2 linked regions of the Homo sapiens genome follow. The protein of the gene in region 1 interacts with the protein of each later gene in a pairwise test. Each region holds a gene or a part of one and is shown in the gene's direction. Other genes may lie near its edges. The genes, in order: FAM47B and CARD10.

Region 1 (3,912 bases):
GAGTGCAGTGGCGCGATCTCGGCTCACTGCAATCTCCGCCTCCCGGGTTCAAGTGATTCTCCTGCTTCAGCCTCCCTAGTAGCTGCGACTACAGGCACGCGCCACCATGACCAGCTAATTTTTGTATTTTTAGTAGAAACGGAGTTTCACCATGTAGGTCAGGCTGGTCTCAAGCTCCTCACCTTGAGATCCGCCTTCCTCGGCCTCCAAAAGTGCTGGGATTACAGGCGTGAGCCACTGCACCTGGCCTCAAACTGTCTTTATTCACAGATGACATTATCATAAATATAGAAAATTCAGTGAAATCTACAAAATGCTCCTGAACATAATAAGTGAGTTTACCAAGGTTGTATGATACAAGATGGATATACAAAACTCAATATTTATATATGCTAACAACAAAAAATTGGAAATTGCAATTAAAAAACAATACTACAGGCCGGGCGCGGTGGCTCATGCCTGTAATCCCAGCACTTTGGGAGGCCGAGGTGGGTGGATCACGAGGTCAGGAGATCGAGACCATCTTGGCTAACACGGTGAAACCCCGTCTCTACTAAAAATACAAAAAGTCAGCAGGGCGCGGTGGCGGGTGCCTGTAATCCCAGCTACTGGGGAGGCTGAGGCAGGAGAATGGCATGAACCCGGGAGGCGGAGCTTGCAGTGGGCCAAGATAGCGCCACTGCAGTCTGGCCTGGGCGAAAGAGCGAGACTCCGTCTCTTAAAAAAAAACAAAAAAAAACAAAACAAAACAAAAAAAAACTACATATAATAGTATGAAAAACAATATTTAGGGAAAATCTGGAGAGAAAAAGATTTGAAAGACACATACACTAAAAAATAAAAAATATTCCCGAGAAAATGAAAAATCACATAAACAAATGGAAAGATGACCTTCCTCAGTGGTCAGAACATTTCATATTGGTAATATGCCAATTATCCTCAAATTGATCTATAGATTCAACAGAATCCTAATCAAAATCCAAACAGGACTTTTTCTAAGACATAGACAAGCAGATTTTAAAATTTCTATAGAAATTCAAAGGACCTAGAAGAACCAACTTTGTAAAAGAACATTGTTAAAGAATTAGTACAGCCTAATTTCTAGATTTATTATAAAGCTAGAGTAACCAAGATAGTGTGAAATTTGTGTGAGAGAAAAATCAATGGAAGAGAAAACAGTGCCCAGAAATTGACCTTCAAATAGACAACTGATACTCTACCAATTTCCGAATGTAATTCAGTGGAGAAAAGATTGTCTTTATAAAAATAGTTCTGAAATTATCAGATATGCGTAAGCAATAGGTACATTTTTAAAATAAAAACTTTGATCTATATCTTGTGCTGTTTACAAAAATTATAGCATTTAAATGAAAAAAATCTTTGTGACCTTTGGATAGGCAAAGTTTTTCATAGATACATCAAAAGAAGCACAATCCGTAAAAGAACAAATTGATAAATTGGACTTCATCAAATTAAAAAACTTCTCTTTGACACAGACAATGAAAGAGCAAAGCCAAGGATGAAGTGAAAAATTTGCAAATCATGCATCTGATAACCTATTTACATCTAGAACACAGCAAGGATTCTCAAAACTAAATATGATATCCAGCAACACAATTTAAAAATGGGGGGAAAATCCACAGAAACTTCAACCAAGGGGAGATAAGGATGGCAAATAAGCAAATATAGAGATGTTCAATATCAGTAGTCATTAGGAAACGCAAATGAAACCCAGAATGAGATTCTACTACACACCTGTTAGAATCCGGGCTGCGCAGGTGGCGTCAGCGCTGCCCCACCTCCAGGAAGGAACCTGGGCTGCGTGTGGCTGGCGGTCTCCTAGCGACTAGAGCGGCAGGGATCTGGAACCTCAGAAGCTGGAGAGGTGGCACAACAGAGAGGGCCACCATGGGGGACCGGAGGCCACAGGACCGGCCAAGGTCCCAAGGCATGGACTCCAAGCCCTGGTACTGTGACAAACCGCCTTCCAAGTACTTCGCGAAGCGCAAGCACAGGCGCCTGAGGTTCCCGCCTGTGGACACCCAGAACTGGGTATTTGTGACGGAGGGCATGGACGACTTCCGCTACGCCTGTCAGTCTCCTGAAGATACGCTTGTTTGTCGCCGTGACGAGTTTTTACTCCCCAAAATATCTCTCAGAGGTCCCCAAGCTGACCGCAAAAGCAGGAAGAAAAAGCTGCTCAAGAAAGCGGCCCTATTTTCCGAGCTCTCGCCAGTACAGCCAGCACGGAAGGCGTTCGTAGAGGAAGTGGAAGCCCAGCTGATGACCAAGCATCCCTTGGCCATGTACCCCAATCTGGGAAAAGATATGCCTCCAGATCTCCTACTACAGGTGCTGAAACAGCTGGATCCCGAGAGGAAGCTGGAGGACGCTTGGGCTCGTTGTGAGGCCCGGGAGAAGACAACCGAGGTACCCACCGAGTCTGGTAAATATCCCTGTGGGGAATCCTGCCCGCGGCCTCCCGAGACTCCGGTGTCCCGTCTCCGTCCTCAGCTTCCCAAGACTCCGGTGTCCAGTCGCCGCCCAGAGCCTCCCAAGACTCGGGTGTCCAGTCTCCGCCCAGAGCCTCCCAAGACTCGGGTGTCCAGTCTCCACCCGGAACCTCCAGAGACTCGCGCATCTCATCTCCGCGTGGATCCTCCCGAGACTGGAGTGTCCCATCTCTGCCCAGAGCCTCCCAAGACTCTGGTGTCCAGTGTCCACCCAGAGCCTCCTGATACTGGAGCGTCCCATCTCTGCCCGGAGCCTCCCGAGACTCGCGTATCTCATCTCCACCCGGAGCCTCCTGAGACTGGAGTGTCCCATCTCCGCCCAGAGCCTTCCAAGACTCAGGTGTCCAGTCTCTGCCCGGAGCCTCCCGAGGCTGGAGTGTCCCATCTCTGCCTGGAACCTCCCAACACTCATCGGGTGTCCAGTTTCCTACTACAGGTGCTGAAACTGGATTCTGAGAAGAAGCTGGAAGACGCACGGGCTCGTTGTGAGGGCCAGGAGATGACAACCGAGGAACTCACCAAGCCTGGTAAATACCATTTTTGGGAATCCTGTCCGCGGCCTTTTGAGAGTCGGATGCCCCATCTCCGCCTGGTGCTTCCCATAACTCGTCGAATGGCCAGTCTCTGCCTGAAGCCTCCCAAGACTCGTCGGGTGTCCAGTCTCTGCCCGGAGCCTACCAAGACCGGAGCGTCCCATCTAAAAGAACTGTTTCAGGAAGATACACCAAGCACAATGGAGTGTGTTTCTGACTCTCTTCAACGTAGACACACATCGAGAAAACTCCGTGACTTCAAGTGGGCTGGAGACCTAGGAGTTAATGAAGAATCCATCAGCAGTCTGTTTGACTTTACCCCTGAGTGCAGAACAACCGATCAAGACCAAAAGATTAAGAAGGCAAACGAGTGTGCTTCAAGGCTGATGTACGGCATGGAGCTAGACGACATGGATGAGGTCGAATTCTTACGGATAAAATACTGGGACAGGAGACGCCGGGCGGCACCGCATTCTTATAGTGCACAGCGTGGGAGGATAAGGTATGGACCATGGTACTTCGAGCCTAAGTTGGGGAAAAAGCTAAGAAGTGATGAACCTTTGATTGACCCCAAGCCCGTACTTGAAAAGCCTGATGAACCCGACATTCTTGACGGTCTTTATGGACCAATTGCCTTTAAGGATTTCATTCTAAGCAAGGGCTACAGAATGCCTGGCGTCATTGAAAAGCTGTTTGCCAAGAAGGGATGGACTTACGACTCTGTTAAGACTCCTATTCAACGTGCAGTGCAAGTTTACAAGTACAAAGAAGACGTCACAGATGCATCAAAAGAAGATTAGATGGTTTTCAATTTACTGCTTAATTGGGTATTTCTTGCTCTCATTCTAAACATCAATCAGAATTTA
Region 2 (3,912 bases), on another chromosome or scaffold:
GGCATAGCTATAGAGAGAAGATGAATGTAGCAGAACTCACAAGAGGACAATAATGAACATGGTACCTAATCACACGCTTGCACACTCGGTGCTATGGACGCCCGGGGACAGGGGAAAGATGAGGAGGCTCAGATGTTTGTGGGGAAGTGGGTACGCCCCTGTCTGCCTCCTGCCTGGCTTGATGCCCACAGTGGGTGGGTGTGTATGTGTGCATGTGTATGTGATGGTGCGTGTGCATGCCTGTATAATTGTACATGTGAATGTGGGAGTGTGGTACCCAAAGGAACTCTGTCGCTTCCCCTGGAATGCTGGGCACCAGGGGCACTCGGTGTACCCAGCTACCTGCCTGTTCAGACCCAGTGTGCCCTCACTTCTCTGTCCACTTATCTGCAGAGACCTCTTGGCTTCTGTGCCTTATCTTTAGGCCCTGCTTAGCTTCTCGATGAAAAAATAATTAACCATAGCCTCATTTTCCAAGGCGTCCATCCCGCTCTGCTGGCCAAGTTAAAAATATTCACGAGGAGTAGGGCTGCTGGTGGGAGGAGCTGCCGCTCTGCGTGGGAGGGCAACCAAGGCCACAGAGAGGGGAAGGACGTATTGAAAGGGAGGTCTGGTGTGTGCCTGGACTCGGGGCTTGGAGAGGACAGAGGCCAGGGGCTGGGCTCCGGCCTATTCCCATTGTGGCCTCGCTGTGTGAATTTGGGCAAGTTCCTTGCCCTCTCTGAGCTCTGCTTCCTCCTTTGTTAATTGAGGAATTTGCACTAGAATTCAGTTCTCCCAAAGCATTTCTTCTGCATGTAAACAGGTGACACCCAAAACAAAAACAAATGTACAACAAATGCAAACCAAAAAAAGGCTGTGGTTAATTAAGTTTGGAAAAGGACACCAGGATATATAAAGTTAAATCTGTTTCTTTACTGCTGGGGCTTTTTTTTTTTTTTTTTTTTTTTTTGAGGGGGAGTCTCATTCTGTTGCCCGGGCTGCTGGAGTGCAGTGGCACGATATCACTGCAACCTCCGCCTCCTGGGTTCAAGCGATTCTCGTGCCTCAGCCTCCCGAGTAGCTGGGATTACAGACGCGCACTACCACGTCTAGCTAATTTTTATATTTTTAGTAGAGATGGGGTTTCGCCATATTGGTCAGGCTGGTCTCGAACTCCTGACCTCAGGTGATCCACTCGCCTCGGTCTCCCAAAGTGTCGGGATTCCAGGCATGAGCCACCGCCCCCGGCCTTAATTTAAGCAGGGCTTTTCAGAGCCTTTATTGATTGAAACCTTAATTCTTTGGATAAGTAATACATATGTCCACGGCATCTAATTCAGAAGTTGTGGAAGGCGATTAGGGAGCTCACACCTCTTTCCTGTACCGGTTGTGCCTCCTCTGTTCCTCCCTGGCAGCAGGTACCTGGCAGCTTCTAATGCATAGCGAGACTGTATCGCATGCACCAGCAGATACCGTGTAGACTCGGCCAGTATCATGGTAAGACACCACCGGCCTCCCAGGCAGGAGCGGGAGTATGGATGGCTAGTCACAGCCCGCCCCCAGCATCTCTGGGACCAACACCTGGAGGAATACCCTTTGAGAATTGTGGGGTCCCTGGTCCTCAAGTGCCACGGGAGTTTGCGTAAGAGGGGAGTTGGCAGTGCTGCCCTGCAGGTTCAGACCCCCATCTTGCAGAAAGCCCCCATGACCTCTGCCCATTGCTGTCCCCCGCGGGGCTGTCCTGCGCTCCAGGGAAGCTCCCGCGCCCGCAGTGCATGTGGGGACCCGAGAAGGGCAAGCCCAGCTTGAGTGCCCGCGGGCTGCGCCGGGCGTGAGCGGCTAGCCCCGCACGGGCGGGCGCGCTGTGGGCGTGGGGAGGCGATGCGCGTGGCCCGGGGAAGGTGTGTCGCGGCGCGCGGGGGGTGTGAGCGCGCCTGCCCGCCCCCGCCCCGCCCAGAGGCCGGGCAGGTGTGGGCGGGCGGCCAGGACCCCGCCGAGCCGGGCTGGAGAGCCGGCGGGAAACAGGAAGCAGGGGGAGGCGCAGCCGGACGGCCGGGAGGGAGGGCGTGCAGACGGACGCGCGGGGTGGCCGGGGGCCGGACGCACGACCCGGGGCGGGCGGCAATGTGGGGAGGCCCGGGCAGCCCAGGAGGCTGCGGGGACGGGGGCGGAGCCGGGGGCGCCACGGGCACCGCCCCCCTGCGCCGGCGGAGCCGCCGCCCGAGTGCGGACCCGGGAGCCCGAGGCGACTGTAGCGTGCGGGGTGAGTCGCGGGGAGCTCGGGGCGCGCCCCCGACGGCGGGTCTGCGGACGACGCCCCGGGGGTGCTTGGCCGCACATCTAGCCCTAGGGAGCCCTGGTCGACCCCCGTGCGCCTCTTGCCCGCAGACCCTGAGGACACGGCCATGCCGGGCCGGGCGGAGGCGGGGGAGGCCGAGGAGGAGGCCGGGGCCGGCTCGGGGTCTGAGGCGGAGGAGGACGCGCTGTGGGAGCGAATCGAGGGCGTCCGGCATCGGCTGGCTCGCGCCCTGAACCCGGCCAAGCTCACGCCGTATCTGCGCCAGTGCCGGGTCATCGACGAGCAGGACGAGGAGGAGGTGCTGAGCACCTACCGCTTCCCGTGCCGCGTCAACCGCACCGGTGAGCCGCGGGTCCCGAGTGGGCCACGACCTGGGCCGGCCGTGCCCTGGGGCGCAGCGCCCACAGCCGTGTAGCGCGAAGCTAGGGCTCTGCTGCCCTGGGGCTCGGTCTCCGCATCAGTAGAGTGGGCCGGCTGGGTATGCCCACCAGCCTGCCTCCTCCCCACCCACCACTGCGCCTTGGCGGTCCGCGTTGCCCACACCGGGGTCAGAGTTTTGTCTCTTGGGGTTCTCTCCCACTTCCTGGGTCCACATTAGAGCAGAAGGTTGGATGTGGCTGCCAGGGCCGGCTGGGCCTGGGACCTCCCGGTCACAGCCGGTGGACTTGGCACCTTTCCTGCGCTCTTTGATCTCCGAGTTCTGTCTGTCCCCTCCTCTGTGCACCATACACTCCTGGGGGAGTCCTTTTTCAAGTGTCAAGATCCGTCTCAGCTTTACGTGGGTCCCCACTCCCACAGGGTGTGCCTTTGAACCAGAACTCAAAAAGGCATGATGGAATGGTCTTTAATGGTGGAATTTCAGGCATGGCCAATGGGAGAAGTATTTTCTTTGCTTCTGGGGATAGAGGGGGCTTCTCTGTGCCATTGAAAAGGCAGGCTGCATTTGCGGGCCGGCATCTGTGTCTGTGGGGGGTGTTGGGGAGCTCTGGGAGCCCAGGAGTCATGAGGGAATGTGCTCCCCTGGCTGTGGCAGAATGGCTCTCTTCTCTTCCCTGATGTGTTGGGACAGGCCCCTGTGTGTGTCACTGGCTCAAAAATCTGGGGAACGTGGGCCTGGAGCATGGTGGGGGCAGAAGCAACCAGGCACCTGGGGAGGCCTTCCCCTAGACCCTGGGTACATCCCCCCACTACTCTGTAGGGCGCCTGATGGACATCTTGCGCTGCCGTGGCAAGAGGGGCTATGAGGCCTTCCTGGAAGCCCTGGAGTTCTACTACCCCGAACACTTCACGCTGCTCACGGGCCAGGAACCCGCCCAGCGCTGCTCCATGATCCTCGGTGAGTGGATCTGCGGTGGATGCTGGCACCTCGGACTCCAGTGCACAGGCTCCTTTCCCCATCCCTGTTAGGGAGGCGCTCCCACTATGCCTGTTGAACAGTAAGGGAAACTGAGGCATGGAGAGGCTGAAGGGGCTTGCCCAGGGCCCCACGGTAGGCTGAGGGTGGGGCTGGGTGCTAGTGCCGTTATTCCAAGTTCAGAGCCACATGCTTAAGATGGCTCTTTCTTCGTGATACTGTTTTCAGACATATGTCTGACATACACAGATGTATAGTTTTTTATGTAAAAAAATAC

The links.
Region 2: the proteins of FAM47B (region 1) and CARD10 interact in binary tests that used the Homo sapiens proteins (3 or more experiments, as listed by UniProt).

Annotation. Positions count from the first base shown.
Region 1 is NC_000023.11:34,940,924-34,944,835, forward strand, and holds the start of FAM47B (protein FAM47B), read left to right. Parts: upstream 1-1,872; 5' UTR 1,873-1,908; coding exon 1,909-3,846; 3' UTR 3,847-3,912.
Region 2 is NC_000022.11:37,517,676-37,521,587, reverse strand, and holds the start of CARD10 (caspase recruitment domain-containing protein 10), read left to right. Parts: upstream 1-2,172; 5' UTR 2,173-2,387; coding exon 2,388-2,622; intron 2,623-3,479; coding exon 3,480-3,617; intron 3,618-3,912. UniProt on the Homo sapiens protein: Scaffold protein that plays an important role in mediating the activation of NF-kappa-B via BCL10 or EGFR.